Linked DNA regions of Homo sapiens: regions 1, 2 and 3 are each linked to region 4. Evidence: fine-mapped expression QTL. A gene starts in region 4. Each other region holds a variant in brackets. All regions are shown on one strand. Distances are between the middles of the regions.

The links.
Region 1: its variant is fine-mapped to the expression of MRPL41 in tibial nerve (GTEx, PIP 0.95).
Region 2: its variant is fine-mapped to the expression of MRPL41 in whole blood (TOPMed, PIP 0.97).
Region 3: its variant is fine-mapped to the expression of MRPL41 in subcutaneous fat (FUSION, PIP 0.95).

Annotation. Positions count from the first base shown.
Region 1 is chr9:137,632,609-137,636,779 of GRCh38, forward strand. The region is part of intron 1 of EHMT1 (euchromatic histone lysine methyltransferase 1); the gene reads left to right. Among named protein-coding and RNA genes, the nearest start is that of EHMT1, 16 kb to the left of the region's middle. RefSeq lists an enhancer at 209-503. The variant T/G (reference allele first, on the strand shown) is at 2,435.
Region 2 is chr9:137,529,429-137,533,599 of GRCh38, forward strand. All of the region lies in intron 8 of PNPLA7 (patatin like domain 7, lysophospholipase), which reads right to left. Among named protein-coding and RNA genes, the nearest start is that of PNPLA7, 19 kb to the right of the region's middle. The variant A/G (reference allele first, on the strand shown) is at 1,889.
Region 3 is chr9:137,700,318-137,704,488 of GRCh38, forward strand. The region is part of intron 1 of EHMT1 (euchromatic histone lysine methyltransferase 1); the gene reads left to right. Among named protein-coding and RNA genes, the nearest start is that of EHMT1, 83 kb to the left of the region's middle. The variant C/T (reference allele first, on the strand shown) is at 2,410.
Region 4 is chr9:137,550,066-137,554,191 of GRCh38, forward strand. MRPL41 (mitochondrial ribosomal protein L41) reads left to right here and starts at 1,814. Exons shown (of 2, transcript NM_032477.3): 1 at 1,814-1,913; 2 at 2,009-2,490. The coding sequence starts at 2,017. The coding sequence ends at 2,430. It overlaps PNPLA7 (patatin like domain 7, lysophospholipase), which reads right to left and starts at 337. Exons shown (of 35, transcript NM_001098537.3): 1 at 103-337. The coding sequence starts at 132. It overlaps LOC124902317 (a long non-coding RNA gene), which reads right to left and starts at 3,615. Exons shown (of 2, transcript XR_007061883.1): 1 at 3,522-3,615; 2 at 2,462-2,636. RefSeq lists a silencer at 1,136-2,085.

The DNA.
Region 1 (4,171 bases), 83 kb after region 4:
ACCCAGGCTGGTCTCGAGCTCTTGGACTCAAGCCATCTGCCTGCCTTGGCCTCCTACGGTGCTGGGATTACAGGCGTGAGCCACTGTGCCCAGCCTAGACCACTTTTTAGGGATTACAGGCGTGAGCCACTGTGCCCGGCCTAGACCACTTCTTCAAGCATTTAATGACTGTTCCTTTGATCATATTCCTGGGTATAGCATCACACGGGGCAGGTTGCTAACCTAGGTGGGCTGATGGAGCTGTGGAGACCATGCTAATGATTCTCGTCCTTGCAATAAGGGCAGTAGGAGGGTTTCAAGGCAGGGAGTGACCTCATCAGGTTTGCGTGTTAGGCTCTGGCTTCCTTCCTGGTCTTCCTGCTGCTGTGTGAAGAACGGATTGTAGACGGATGGCAGTGGAGGCAGCAAACGCAGTCCTCAGGGAGTGGGTGGTCACCGGTTATGTGGCAGATGAGGAGGGCACAAGGATGACTTGTGGGACTAGGCCGGAGCCAAATGCTGGGTTCTCTGCTTGAACGGAAGGGTGGGTGGCCGTGCCATTCACCCGGACAGGGAAGGCATGCTCAGGTCAGCTCTGGGGTGGTTTATTCCAGGGGTGGCAAACTCTTTCTGAGCAGGCTGGATAGTATTTCAGACTCATGCACCAAGAAGCAAAATCAAGGATAACTCCACAAATTTTTGTTGACAAAGATCAAAATATAATTGACTACTTTTTTTTTTTTTGTAATACAGATCTACTGATTAGAAGAACAGAATTTTTGGGGGGATAACATTTTGCTTAATTGGGGTTCAATGTTAATGTTCCCCATCATAAAAATTACTGGAGCTGTTCATCTGTTAAGTGCTTACTGTGACACAGTTTTCTGTTTCATCTTTGAAAATGTCTTCACACCGATAGCTGTTGCCATATTCCAGTATCAGTCCAGGAGCAGATGATTTATTTTTATTGAGATGTAATTCATTTACTATAAAATTCACATTTTAAAATGTGCACCTCAGTGGGGTTCTTTGGTATGTCTGGAGTGGTCCAACCATTACCACTACTTCCAGATCATTCCGTCATTACCACTACTTCCAGATCATTCCGTCACCCCAAAAAGAAACCTCATACCCATTAGCAGGACTTCCCTAATCCTCCCTCCCCGACCCCCGACACTGCTCTACTTTTTTGCAAATATTTTTTCTCATTCTGTGGGCTGTCTTTTCACTTTCTAATTTTTTTTTTTTTTTTTGAGACAGTCTCGCTCTTGTCGCCTAGGCTGGAGTGCAATCTAGTCTCACTGCAACCTCCGCCTCCCGGGTTCAAGCGATTCCCCTGCCTCAGCCTCCTGAGAAGCTGGGATTACAGGTGCGCACCAGCACGCCGGCTTATTTTTGTATTTTTAGTAGAGTCAGGGTTTCACCATGTTGTTCAGGCTGGTCTTGAACTCCTGACTTCAAGTGATCCACCTGCCTCGGCCTCTCAAAGTGCTGGGATTATAGGCATGAGCCACTGTGCCCGGCCTAATTTTTATTTTCTTGATGCCTTCCTTTGAAGCACAGATGTTTTTAATTTTTGATGAAATCCACCTTCTTGTTTTCCAGTTGGTTTCTTTGCTTTTGTTGTCGTGTCTGATTGCCCAATCCAAACCAGGGAGTTTATGTTTCCTTGGAAAATTTGCATAGTTTTAGCTCTTACATTTAAGTCTTTGATCCGTTTTGACTTAATTTTTGTATATGATGTTAGGTAGGATCCAGGCTTCATTCTTTTCATGTACAGTTGGCTCAGCAGCGTTTGTTGAAAAGACCATGCTTTCCCCATTGAATTGCCTGGCCATCGTTTTTGAAAATCAGTTGAACATAAATGTGATGGTTAATTTCTGGGTTCTCAGTTCTATTCCGTTGATGTATATGTCTGTCCTAATGCGAGCATTGTTGCAGCAGTGTAATAAGTTTTGTAATGAGGAAATGTGAGTCCTTCAACTTTGTCTTTTTCATGATTGGGTCCCTTGCATTTTCTTTCATTTCTTTTCTTTTCTTTTCTTTTCTTTTTTTTCAAGATTGGGTCCCTTGCTTGCTTGCTTGCTTGCTTTTTCTTTCTTTTCTTTCTTTCTTCTTTCTTTTTTTTTTTTTTTGACAGAGTCTCTCTCTATCGCCCAGGCTGGAGTGCCGTGGTGCGATCTCAGCTCACTGCAACCTCTGCCTTCCAGGTTCACGCCATTCTCCTGCCTCAGCTTCCCGAGTAGCTGGGACTACAGGCGCCCCCACCATGCCCAGCTAATTTTTTTTTTTTTTTTTTTTTTTTTGTATTTTTAGTAGAGATGGGGTTTCACCATATTAGCCAGGATGGTCTCGATCTCCTGACCTCGTGATCCGCCGGCCTCGGCCTCCCAAAGTGCTGGGATTACAGGTGTGAGCCACTGCGCCCGGCTGTCACTTGGATTTTCGTATGAGT[T/G]TTAGGATCTTGTTGTCAATATCTGCAAAAAAGCCTTTCAGGATCTTGAAAGGGATTGTGTTGAATATGTAGATCAGTTTAGGATATCGCCATCTTAATAGCAAGTCTTCCAATTGGGGAACACCGGATGCTTGTCCATTTATTTAGGTCTTCTATTTTATTTTATTTTATTTATTTATTTTGAGACAGAGTCTTGCACTGTCACCTGGGCTGGAGTGCAGTGGCGTGATCTCGGGTCACTGCAACCTCCGCCTCCTGAATTCAAGCCATTCTCCTGCCTAAGCCTCTCGACTAGCTAGGATTACAGGCACCCATCGCCACGCCCAGCTAATTTTTTTTTTTTAATGTATTTTTGGTAGAGACGGAGTTTCACCATGTTGGACAGGCTGGTCTTGAACTTCTGACCTCGTGATTCGCCCTCCTTGGCCTCCCAAAGTGTTGGGATTACAGGCATGAACCACTGCGCTCGGCCTTCAGTTTTCTTTAACATTTTCAGAGCTGGGCGCGGTGGCTCACGCCTGTAATCCCAGCACTTTGGGAGGCCGAGGTGGGTGGATCACGAGGTCAGGAGATCGAGACCATCCTGGCTAACATGGTGAAACCCCGTCTCTACTAAAAATACAAAAAATTAGTGGGACGTGGTGGCGGGCGCCTGTAGTTCCAGCTACTCGGGAGGCTGAGGCAGGAGAATGGCATGAACCTGGGAGGCGGAGCTTGCAGTGAGCTGAGATGGTGCCACTGCTCTCCAGCCTGGGCGACAGAGCGAGACTGTCTCAAAAAACAAAACAAAACAAAAAACAATATTTTAATGTATAAGTTTTGTAGTTATTTCTTACAAGTATTTTATTCTTTTTGATGCTTTTATAAATAGAATTAAAAAAAATTTTTTTTTTTTGAGATGGGGAGTCTTGCTCTGTCGCCCAGGCTAGAGTGCAGTGGTACGATCTCGGTTCACTGCAACCTCCGCCTCCTGGGTTCAAGCAGTTCTCCTGCCTCAGCCTCCTGAGTAGTTGGGATTACAGGTGCATGCCACCACGCCTTGCTAATTTTTGTATTTTTAGTAGAGATGGGGTTTCACCATTTTGGCCAGGCTGATCTTGAACTCCTGACCTCAGGATCCACCCACCTCCAGCTCCCAGAGTGCTGGGATTATAGGCGTGAGCCACCATGCCCAGCCACATTTCATTTTTAGATTGCAATTGTATAGACATAAAATTGATTTTTATATATTGGATCTTGTATCCTGCAACTTTGCTGAATTTTTTTTGGTGTGGATTCCTTGGGATTTTCTATATATAGGATTATGTCATTTGGGAATAGAGTTGTAGTTCTTCCTTTTAAATCTGGACACTTTTTTGTCCTTCCCTAATTGCCCTGGCTAGTAAAATGTTGAATAGAAGTGGTGAAAGCTGACATTCCCATCTTCATTCCTGTTTTTAGAGGAAAGCTTTTAGTTTTTCACCATTAGGTATGATATTAGCTATGAGTTTTTCCATAGATGCCCTTTACTAGATTGAGGAATTCCCTTTTATTTCTAGCTTGTTGAGTGTTTTCATTATAAAGGGGTTTTGGATTTTGTCAAATGTTTGTCTCTATCTGTTGACATGATTATGTAGTTTTTTTCCTTTATTGATATGGTGTCTTACATAGATTTTCATATGCTCAACCAGCCCTGCGTTTCTGCCCTAAATCCATTTGGGTATGTTATCTAATCCTTTTTAAATCTTGTTGAGTTTG
Region 2 (4,171 bases), 21 kb before region 4:
TGTGATCATTTATAATGGCTGGGTTTAGGATATAATTTTCCGGAGAATGTTGCCTTCTTTGTTTTAGCAGGCGATTAAGCTGGTTGGGTTCAGACCACAAGTCTGTATCTGTGGATGGTGGATTCCAGTTTCTCTGTTTTCAAAGCCTTGGTTCTGATGCTTTGCTCTGCCCTGAACATGCACCACTCAGGAGTCAATCTGAGATTCGAGGTGAAGTTTGAATCTTTGTTTTTTTTTTTTTTTTTTTGAGACGGAGTTTCACTCTACCACCCAGGCTGGAGTGTAGTGGCACGATCTCGGCTCACTGCAACCTCCGCCTCCTGGGTTGAAGCAACTCTCCTGCCTCAGCCCCCTGAGTAGCTGGGATTACAGGCACACACCACCACACTTGGCTAAATTTTTGTATTTTTAGTAGAGACGGGGTTTCACCATGTTGACCAGGCTGGTGTGGAACTCCTGACCTCATGTGATCCGCCCGCCTCAGCCTCCCAAAGTGCTGGGATTACAGGTGTGAGCCACCGCGCCCAGCCTGAAGTTTGAATTTTTTTTTTCCTGAGATACAGTCTTGCTCTGTTTCCCAGGCTGTGGTGCAGTGGCATGATCTCGGCTCACTGCAACTTCTGCCTCCCGGGTTCAAGCGATTCTCCGGCCTCAGCCTCCCGAGTAGATGAGACTAGAGGTGCGCGCCACCACACCCAGCTAATTTTTTTGTATTTTTAGTGGAGACAGGGTTTAACCATGTTGGCCAGGACAGTCTTGATCTCTTGACCTTGTGATCTGCCCGCCTCGGCCTCCCAAAGTGTTGGGATTACAGGCGTGAGCCACCGCACCTGGCCTTGAAGTATGAATCTTAATACAGTTTCAAAGTCTTTGTTATGCTGCTCTGGGTCTGTCCTGAGCCTTGTACAGGTTCACAGACAAAATCTGTGCATCTACTTCCCTGGCTCTCTCCTCCCTGAGATCCACACACTCTCTCTGGCCCTTGGGGGCCCTTCTTCTGGTGCTTTTGGAGGATTCCCATCAGGGCTTTTGCTCCATAACTGGGCTACCATCAAGGCAAGGCCATGAGTAACAGAAGAAAACGAAAAAGCAGGAAGCAGAACCCTCGTGGGTGGCGGCTCCACGATGACTATCCACAGTCTACTGGCTTTATTTTCGGAGTTCTCCAAGAATTGTTTTCTGCATTCTGTCCAGAGTTTTTCACTGTAATCAGCAGGACAGGCTGTTGTGGCACTACCTTGCCACAGCAGAACTGTAACTCTCCCATTTATTTTAGTTAAAAATAAAATCTTAATTTCCTTCTTCTTTGAGAGCCTGAATGAAGATGCCTAACACATCACCACAGATACTAAATCAAACAGCAGCTGCTCACCTGTGTAGACCAGGCTCACGGCTGCTGCTGTTCAGGAGAATTCCAATGTACCTTCCTGCACGAGGCCACATAAACGAGAACCCAAACAAGGAACTTAGAGGGTGCCCAATCTCCTGGTGCTGGGCTCCAAAGCACAACTGGCCGACACTCAGGCCTGCTGCGGGCCCCGCACATCGAGCACACCAGATACTCAGCTCTTGGCACATGCTAATCGATCTCTGAGACTCAGCAATTTTTCTTCCACTTGGAATTTTGTTCCGTTCCTTTCAAAACCTTTATGTAGAGCAAGTTCCTCCCTAAGAGAGCTACACCACACCACAAGAAACACAAGCACAGAACGGTTGAGAGGAGTCATCTGCCAGCCCCAACAGCCGGGGTCCAGCGACTGAAATCACGGCCTGCTCCAGACTCAAGGGAGAGACACCCCCACCAACCGCATCAGCTGGGCAAGTCTCATCTCCACTCTGGAATCAGGGAGAAAAGCACGTGCGTGTGTTTGGGGGCGGGTGGGGAAAA[A/G]GAATAACAACTTAGCAGCTGTTGCTAAAAATGGCTTTTGTGTGTTTTATTTCAAATCCACTTGTTTACTTCAAAAAACCATGCCTTCATAACCTCACCCCAGATCAGGAAGCTGTGAAAACCACAGGGAGAGGCTGGATGCTGGGAAGCCCAGGTGGACACGCAGCTCCTCTGGCAGGCAGGGGTCCCCGAGGGCTCCCCACACTTGCACATCTTCAGATCTCGGCAGTGCTGTATGTAGCAGCCAGCAATCACACCCAACCCAGCTGTCACTCAGCCACGGAGAAATCAACGGTGGTGTCAACGACTGAACTAGAACGACACCCACTCACGCCAATGAATCTCACGTTCATAATGTTGCTCAAATTAGGAAAGGTGAGGAATCCTGGTGTGATGCCATTTATGAGATTTAGAGTCAAGCAAAATTATACTACATATTGTATAAGTACCAAAGAAAATTCAGAAAAGTAGCTATCTCTGAAGAAAAGAGAAGGTGAAATGAGAGCACACGTGGGTAATGTGAACAGAGCCGGCAGTGTGCATCTAACCTGTGTTCTAGCTAACCAGGGTTAAAACTATATAACCTGGGTTCGAGTTAAGATGCCTGTTTGCTGTGTCATGCCTACTTGTTTTAGAGACAGGGTCCTGCTATGTTGTCTGGGCTGGCCTAGAACTACGAGGCTCAGCAATCTCCTTTCCTCTCCCGAACAGCCAGGACTATAGGTGCCAACCGCCATTCCCAGCAACATCACGCTTTTTTGCGTATCTGCGGTATTTTGTAACAACTTTATAAAAATTAAAATAATAAAGACTATCTCCCATTAAAAATGGTGGGTTGGGCCAGGCACGGTGGTTCACACCTATAATCCCAGCACTTTGGGAGGCCCAGGAGGGCAGATCGCTTGAGGTCAGGAGTTGAAGACCAGCCTGGCCAACATGGTGAAACCTTGTTTCTACTAAAAATACAAATATTACACGGGCATGCTGGTGTATACCTGTAGTCCCAGCTACTCGGGAGGCTGAAGCACAAGACTCACTTGAACCCAGGAAATGGAGGTTGCAGTGAGCCAAGATCACGCCACTGCACTCCAGCCTGGGTGACAGAGTGAGACTGTCTCCAAAAAAGAAAGGTAAGTTGAAGGTAAATGCTTATCTTTGTCCCCTTGTGGAATATACATGCTTATCTCTGCTCTCTTAAAAAGATACAAACCTCCAAGGATAAAGACAAAAGCTAAGAGTAGATAAAAAATGTCACTGAAATTTTAGCGGCTGATGAAAGCAAGTGACAGGGTCATGGCTGGTGGAGCCCTCTAAGGAAAGCTGACACTTGGTTTTAGAGGTGCAGAACCTGGACAGAGAGGACTGGTCCTCACTGCAGAGCCAGAACGAGGCTAACATGCAGGTGAGACGGGAAGAGGGGCAGGCTAACCCCAAGTCACTTTCCTGACCCCAACAGGCTGGAAATGGCTTTTCCCCGTGGCCAGAGGACTACCAGGAACTCTCTGGAGAAGGTGAAGCAAGCAGGTAAGAGCCCAAGGACATCAGGTGTGGCTACGAATCCAAGAACAGTGTCCACTCCAGACGGGAGCACTCCCAGACTCCTCAGTGAGTGTCCACTCCAGACGGGAACACTCCCAGAATCCTCAACAACAGTGTCCACTCCAGACGGGAGCACCCCCAGACTCCTCCCCAAGTGTCCACTCCAGATGGGAGCACTCTCAGACTCCTCAGTGAGTGTCCACTCCAGATGGGAGCACTCTCAGACTCCTCAGTGAGTGTCCACTCCAGACGGGAGCACCCCTAGACTCCTCCCCAACAGTGTCCACTCCAGGCGGGAGGACTCCCAGAATTCTCCACAACAGTGTACACTCTAGACGGGGGCACTCCCAGAGTCCTCCCCAACAGTGTCCACTCCAGGCGGGAGGACTCCCAGACTCCTCCCCAACAGTGTCCACTCCAGGCGGGAGGACTCCCAGAATCCTCAACAACAGTGTCCACTCCAGACAGGAGCACCCCCAGACTCCTCCCCAAGTGTCCACTCCAGATGGGAGCACTCCCAGACTCCTCAGTGAATGTCCACTCCAGACGGGAGCACCCCCAGACTCCTCCCCAACAGTGTCCACTCCAGGCGGGAGGACTCCCAGAATTCTCCACAACAGTGTACACTCCAGGCGGGAGGACTCCCAGAATCCTCCACAAGTGTCCACTCCAGACGGGAGCACCCCCAGAATCCTCCCCAACAATGTCCACTCCAGGCGGGAGGACTCCCAGAATCCTCCACAA
Region 3 (4,171 bases), 150 kb after region 4:
CTGAGTTCTACTTCACTATCTGGGGAACTTTTTTCCCCTTAAGTTTTTGTGTCTATCTGAACCCACCAATTAACATTTAAGGAAAAAACTTCACGAAGTGGGAAATAATCCTTTTTTCTCCAGCCACATCAGTGCCTTAGACAATATATTAAAGTGGGCATTCGGAAGAAGACAATGTTGTTTTCTAGAAGGATGGTGGAGTCCAGCTCAAGCACGTCAAATGTGTGCTGAGGTGGGCCTCATTAGTCCGCTGTTCTCCTTTCTCAAAAGGTTTGATTTGTTGCTGTTGTGACCCATTTTGATCATGGATTGGGTAGATTTTGCACCCCTGCCATGCCACCCCACCCTCCCTACCATAGCATTCAGCCCTTGATGCTTAGGTACTGTTCTAATTGAGGTTTTATTATAGGCTGTGACATTGATGAGAATCTGGATAGGTCAGTGAAGGAACTGTTCCTGTGATCAATTCTGGCTTTACAAATTGTAGCTCTTGTTTTACTATAAAAAATGCCAGGTTTCTGGGTGTATTGGCTCGTTCTCACACTGCTATAAAGACATACCTGAGGCTGGGTAATTTATAAGGAAAAGAGGTTTAATCGGTTCATGGTTCTGTGGGCAGGCTGTATAGGTTTCTGCTTCTGGGGAAGCCTCAAGCAACTTAAAATCATGGCGGAAGGCCTAGGAGAAGCAGGCATATTTTCACATGGCTGGCAGGAGAGAGAAAGCATGAAGGGGAAAGTGCTGCACACTTTCCAACAACCAGGTCTCATGAGAACTCACTCATTATCATGAGAACAGCAAGGGGAACGTCCGCCCCCATGATCCAGTCAGCTCCTACCAGGTCCCTCCCCCAACATTGAGGATTACAGTTAAACATGAGATTTGGGTGGGGACACAGAGCAAACCATATCATTTTGCCCCTGATCCCTCCTAAATCTCATGTCCTTTTCACATTTCTTTTTTTTTTTTCTCTTGTTTTTTTTTGAGACAGAGTCTCACTCTGTCACCTAGGCTGGAGTGCAATGATGCGATCTCAGCTCACTGCAACCTCTGTCCCCCAGGCTCTAGTGATTCTCCTGCCTCAGCTTCCTGAGTAGCTGGGATTGCAGGCATGTGCCACCACACCTGGCTAATTTTTATTTTATTTTATTTTATTTTGACGTGCAGTTTTGCTCTTGTCGCCCAGGCTGGAGTGCAATGGTGTGATCTTGGCTCACTGCAACCTCTGCCTCCCGGGTTTGAGCAATTCTCCTGCCTCAGCCTCTTGAGTAGCTGGGATTACAGGTGGGCGCCACCATGCCTGGCTAATTTTTTTTTTTTTTTTTTTGAGATGGAGTTTTGCTCTTGTTGCCCAGGCTGGAGTGCAATGGTGTGATCTCAGCTCACTGCAACCTCCACCTCCCAGGTTCAAGGAATTCTCCTGCCTCAGCCTCCTGAATAGCTGGGATTACAGGCACGCGCCACCATGCCTGGTTAAATTTTTTTTTTTTTTTGAGACGGAGTTTTGCTTTTGTCGCCCAGGCTGGAGTGCAATGGTGCGATCTCAGCTCACTGCAACCTCTGCCTCCTGGGTTCAAGTGATTCTCCTGCCTGAGCCTCTCAAGTAGCTGGGATTACAGGTGCCCGCCACCATGTCCATTTAATTTTTGTATTTTTAGTAGAAACGGGGTTTCACCATGTTGGCCAGGCTCGTCTCGAACTTCTGACCTCAGGTGATCTACTCGCCTCAGCCTCCCAAAGTGCTGAGATTACAGATGTGAGCCACTGCGCCCAGCCTAATTTTTGTATTTTTAATAGAGACAGGGTTTCACCATGTTGGTCAGGCTGGTCTCAAACTCCTGACCTCATGATCCACCCACCTCGGCCTCCCAAAGTGCTGGGTCCTTCTCACATTTCAAAACACAAATATGCCTTCCAGCAATTTCCCAAAGTCTTAACTCATTCCAGCATTAACTCAAAAGTCCAAAGTCTTATCTGAGACAAGGTAAGTCCCTTCTGCCTATCAGCCTGTAAAATAAAAAGCTTACTTCCAAGAAACAATAGTAATACAGGCATTGGGTAAATGCTTCTGTTCCAAAAGGGAAAAATTGACCAAAACAAAGGGGCTACAGGCTCCATGTAAGTCTGAAACCCAGCAGGGCAGTCTGAGTTCCACAATAATCTTCTTTGACTCCATGTCTCACTTCCAGGCCACACTGGTGGAAGGGGTGGGCTCCCAAGGCCTTGGGCAGCTCTGCCTCTGTGGCTCTTCAGGGTACAGCTCCTGCAGCTGCTTTCATGGGCTGGCGTTGAGTGCCTGCTGCTTTTCTAGGCGTGTGGTACAAGCCGTAGATGGATCTACCATTCTGGGGTCTGGAGGGTAGTGGTCCTCTTCTCACAGCTCCACTAGGCAGTGCCCCAGTGGAGACT[C/T]TATGTGGGGCTCCAGTCCCACATTTCCCATCCACACTGCCCTAGTAGAGGCTCTCCGTGGGGGCTTCGCCCCTGCAGGAAGCTTCTGTCTGGACATCTGGACATTTCCATATACTTGGCCTCCACATCCAGCATCCTCTGAATTCAAGCAATTCTCCTGCCTCAGCTTCCTGAGTAGCTGGGATTACAGGCATGCGCCACCACAGATGTATGGATGATATCCATACATCCTGTGAAATCTAGGTGGAGGCTCCCAAGCCTTAACTCTTGCCCTGTGTGCACCTGCTGGGTTAACACCATGTAGAAGCCTTGGTAGCTGCCAGCTTGCACCCTTTGGGTCAGTGTCCTGAGATGTATCTGGGGCCGTTTCAGCCACCACTGGAGCTGGAGTGGCTGTGATGCCGGACACCATGTACTGAGGTTGCACAGAGCAGCAAGGCCCTGGGTCTGGCCCACAAAACCATTCTTCCTTCCTAGGCCTCCAGGCCTGTGATGGGAGGGGCTGCTGCAAAGGTCTCTGAGGCATTTTCCCCATTGTCTTGGCTATTAACATTCAGCTCCTCATGCAAATTTCTGTAGCTGGCTTGAACCCCTTCCCTGAAAAATGTGCTTTTTTTCCTACCACATGGTCAGGCTGCAAAATTTCCAAACTTTTATGCTCTGCTTCCCTTTTAAATATAAGTTCCAGTTTCAGATACTCTCTTCGTGCACGCATGTGAGTGTATGCTGTTAGAAGCAGCCAGGCCACATCTTGACTGCTTTGCTACTTAGGAATTTCTTCCACCACATACCCTAAATCATCTCTCTCAAGTTCAAAGTTCCACAGATCCTTAGAGCAGGGACACAGTGCCGCCTGTCTCTTTGCTAAAGCATAGCAAGAGTGACTTTTACTCCAATTCCCAATAGGTTCCTCATCTCCATCTGAGACCTCCTCAGCTTGGACTTCATTGTCCATATCACTGTCAGCATTTTGGTCAAAACCATTCAAAAAGCCTCTAGGAAGTTCATCTTCCTTTCTTCTTCCTAGCCCTTTAACCTGTTCAAACTTCGGCCCATTACCCATTTCCAAAGCTGCTTCCACATTTTCAGGTATCTTTATAGCAATGCCCTACTTCTCCAGTACCAATTTTCTGTATTAGTCTGTTCTCACACTGCTATAAAGATATACCTAATTCTGGGTAATTTATAAAGAAAAGAGGTTTGATCAGCTCATGGTTCTGTGGGCTGTAGAGGCTTCTGCTTCTAGGGAGGCCTCAGGAAACTTAGCAATCATGGCGGGAGGGCAAAGGGGAAGCGAGCACATCTTACCTGGCCATAAGGATGAAGAGAGAGCAAAGGGGGAAGTGCCACACACTTTCCAACAACCAGATCTTGTGAGATATATCACGAAAACAGCAAGGGGGACATCTGCCCCCATGATCCAGTTACCTCCCATCAGGCCCCTCCCCCAATATTCGGGATTACAGTTCAACATGAGATTTTGGTGGGGACACAGAGCCAAACCATATCACTATGTGTCTGTAAACAGTGAGGTTATGATGTGACCTCAGCTCTGCAGCCTGTAGGGGAATGTGTGGGAGGAAGGAGCTCACTGAGCTCGGGACTTGGAGGGAAGGACTGGGCCACTTTGTTCTCATAAACAAGCAGGACCAAGACCGGAGGCTTGTGGCCTTGCCCTGGTTGTAGATTGAGGATTTTCTATTGGTTTTAATTTTAAGAAACATGGACATTTAAGATAGTGTTTGGTTTTTTTAATGGTATT
Region 4 (4,126 bases):
GCCAAAGAGCGCGGCAGAGCAGACGCCAAGAGGACCCTTCTCTGGGTCCAGAAATGCCCCCCAACTGGGAAATCCAGGCATCTGGTCCCCCGAGTTACATACCTGTGGGCTGTCATCTTTCTCTTCCTCCATGGCCAGAAACAGAAAAAACAGTCAGGGGCGAAAAGCAGACAGCCTGAAGCAAACAAGGGCACACCTCTACCCGCTCATGCTCACACCTGGACACTTTTCCCTGGGTTCCTTTCAAGTCAAATTATGTTTCACTGAAAGGAAAATCCTGCTGAAAAAGTCTGTTCTCCAGGAAGAAAAGCTGTCTTTTGAGAAGTGTCTGTCATCTGCTAGGAGCCACCTCCTTCCCTCTGTAAACAGCCCTCACGTGGCTGTCCCGGAACCCAGAACAGCAGCCAGATGGGGCGTATCCAAGCAGGTCAAGAGGAGCCAGGCCCAGCGCGGCGGGGATGGGGGCAGCGCTGCCTTCTGGAGAAGCACGGCTGGAGGGGAGGTGACGCTGGCGGGGCGTGGATCCGGGGTGTGGGGATGCAGCTGGGGAGGAGGGTGCAGCTGGGGAGGGGGTGGATCCGGCGTGTAGGGGTACCGCTGGGGAGTGGGTGCAGCTGGGGAGGGGGTGGATCTGGGGTGTGGGGGTGCCGCTGGGGAGTGGGTGCAGCTGGGGAGGGGGTGGATCCGGCGTGTAGGGGTACCGCTGGGGAGTGGGTGCAGCTGGGGAGGGGGTGGATCTGGGGTGTGGGGGTACTGCTGGGGAGAGGGTGCAGCTGGGGAGCGCGTGGATCCGGCGAGTGGGGGTACCGCTAGGGAGGGGGTGCAGCTGGGGAGGGGGTGGATCTGGGGTGTGGGGGTGCCGCTGGGGAGGGGGTGCAGCTGGGGAGGGGGTGGATCTGGGGCGTGGGGGTGCCGCTGGGGAGGGGGTGCAGCTGGGGAGGGGGTGGATCTGGGGCGTGGGGGTGCCGCTGGGGAGGGGGTGCAGCTGGGGAGGGGATGGATCTGGGGTGTGGGGGTACCGCTGGGGAAGGGCGTGCAGCTGGAGAGGGGATGGATCTGGGCTGTGGGGGTGCCGCTGGGGACGGGGTGCAGCTGGGGAGGGGGTGGATCCGGATTGTGAGGGTGCGGCTGGGGGGCGACTTCCGCGTGGGGTGAGAGGTCGCCTGCGAGGGTGACCGGGCAGGAGGGCTCAGTGCGCAAGCCGGACGTGCTGGGTCCAAGATTATTGATTAATTTGGGCACCGCGAGGGCTCGAGTCCCCCCACACCACTGCCCGGCCTGCGGGGGAGCACAGACAGCCCGGGCCCTCCCGGCTGCAGGTCCCGGGCTTTCCCCGCGCGGTTGCCGGCTCCGCCCAGAGGAGCCGCGCCCGGCGGAGGGGTAAGAAAGGCAGGGTCGCGGCGTCAACGCGGCGGCCGTCTCGAGTCCAGGGCCCGCGTCCTCCCCGACCTCCCGACGCCACCTCACGGCCTCAGGGGGACTGGGCTCCCGGGAAACCGCCGGCCACCTGGCGGACGAACACAGGCAGTGGCGGGCAGTGGAGACGCCAGGGACCACCGCGCTGAGAGCGATCACTCATCCGCCAGCCCCGCCCCGCGAGCCCCGCCCCGCGAGCCCCGCCCCGCGAGCCCCGCCCCGCGAGCCCCGCCCCGCGAGCCCCGCCCCGCGAGCCCCGCACCGCCGGCCCCGCACCGCCAGCCCCGCGAGCCCCGCCCCGCCCCGCGCGCTCCTCGCATTGGCCGAGTCCCCGCGGCCACACCCCCTACCAGATTGGGGCCGCTATTGGACGCGGCGGCCGCGGCCAATCGGAGCCGCTCTTGCTGCGACGCAGCGGTCGGAAGCGGAGCAAGGTCGAGGCCGGGTTGGCGCCGGAGCCGGGGCCGCTTGGAGCTCGTGTGGGGTCTCCGGTCCAGGTGAGTCTGTCGGATTGGGGCGGGCGCCGCGCGCGGCCAGGGGCGGGGCTGGCCGGGTTCCCGGGGCCGCGACTACCCGCTCTCTCCTCCCGCAGGGCGCGGCATGGGCGTCCTGGCCGCAGCGGCGCGCTGCCTGGTCCGGGGTGCGGACCGAATGAGCAAGTGGACGAGCAAGCGGGGCCCGCGCAGCTTCAGGGGCCGCAAGGGCCGGGGCGCCAAGGGCATCGGCTTCCTCACCTCGGGCTGGAGGTTCGTGCAGATCAAGGAGATGGTCCCGGAGTTCGTCGTCCCGGATCTGACCGGCTTCAAGCTCAAGCCCTACGTGAGCTACCTCGCCCCTGAGAGCGAGGAGACGCCCCTGACGGCCGCGCAGCTCTTCAGCGAAGCCGTGGCGCCTGCCATCGAAAAGGACTTCAAGGACGGTACCTTCGACCCTGACAACCTGGAAAAGTACGGCTTCGAGCCCACACAGGAGGGAAAGCTCTTCCAGCTCTACCCCAGGAACTTCCTGCGCTAGCTGGGCGGGGGAGGGGCGGCCTGCCCTCATCTCATTTCTATTAAACGCCTTTGCCAGCTATACGGTGTTTGTTTTTTGGCCTCAGGTCATGGCAAAGTGTGCAGCATGACAGATTTCAGTGCAGGCACCTAAGCCGAGTTCTCATGCAGACTCGGCGCTGTGAACCTCTTTGGAGGTCATCTTCCGAGTCCGAAGGTTCTGGGAACCTGCCAAGGGCAAACATCACTCAGCTTGCAGGAGAAAGAATTTACAAGGCAGATTGTGCCGGATGACAGCACTGGTCAGTTCATCCCCCAAATTATTCACCCAGGGAACAAAGATACAGAGATGGGGGTCTCACTATGCTGCCCAGGCTGAGAACTCATGGGCTGAAATGATCCGCCCGCCTCAGCCTCCCAAAATGCTGGGATTACAGGTGTGAGCCACTGCGCCCAGCCTAGGAAAATTTCCTGTTGCAATCTGACATATAGTGACATGTTGTGTTGTATCATCAGAAAAGAAGAAAGGGATAAGGCCAGGTGCGGTGGCTCACGCCTGTAATCCCAGCACATTGGGAGGCTGAGGCGGGAGGATCACAAGATTAGGAGTTCAAGACCAGCCTGGCCAGCATGATGAAACCCCATCTCTACTAAAAATACAAAAATTAGCCAGGCGTGGTGGCGTGCGACTGTAGTCCCAGCTACTCCAAAGGCAAGAGAATCGCTTAAACCCAGGAGGCAGAGCTTGCAGTGAGTCGAGATCGCACCACTGCACTCCAGCCTGGGTAACAGAGTGAGACTCCGTCTCAAAAAAGGGATAAAACTGCATGTTTTTTTGCTTGTAGTCACCTATGTATCATTAGTAAATGCTGAGGATTTGACAAATAGTGGCCTGTACCTCAACCACAGTTCCTCCCAGAGAGACAAAAGCCCTCACAGCAGGAGTTGGATGTAACACACCCAGTTTGTTCACACACCTAAAGTCACCATCTGTCCAGTATTTGGGAGCTAACCCGTGTGGGTGCTGCAGTGATGAGTGTTCCCTACAGACTTCACATATTTCAAGCTGATGACCCCCAAGGCAACTTGGAACACACACTCCCTTTTACTTACCTGCATAGGGATCCAATACAGGTTGAGCGTCGTTATCCAAAATGCTTGGGGCTGGGCGCCCTGGCTCATGCCTGTAATCCCAGCACTTTGGGAAGCCGAGACAGGCGGGTCATCTGAGGTCAGGAGCCTGGCCAACATGGTGAAACCCCATTTGTACTAAAAATACAAAAATTAGCCAGGCATGGTGGCACACACCTGTAATCCCAGCTACTCCGGAGGCTGAGGCAGGAGAATCACTTGAACCTGGGAGGTGGAGGGCAGTGAGTCGAGATGGAGCCACCGAGATTGAGCCACTGCACTCCAGCCTGGGTGACGAGCATGACTCTGTCTCAAAAAAAAAAAAAGGCACAGCTCAACGCCTGTAATCCCGGCACTTTGGGCGGCCAAGGTGGACGGATCACCTGAGGTCCAGAGTTTGAGAGCAGCCTGACCAACATGGAGAAACCTTGTCTCTACTAAATATACAAAATTAGCCGGGCATGCTGGTGGATGCCAGCTATTGGGAGGGTGAGGCAGGAGAATCGCTTGAACTTGGGAGGCGGAGGTTGCAGTGAGTCAAGATTGTGCCATTGCACCCCAGCCTGGGCAGCAAGAGCAAAACTCCA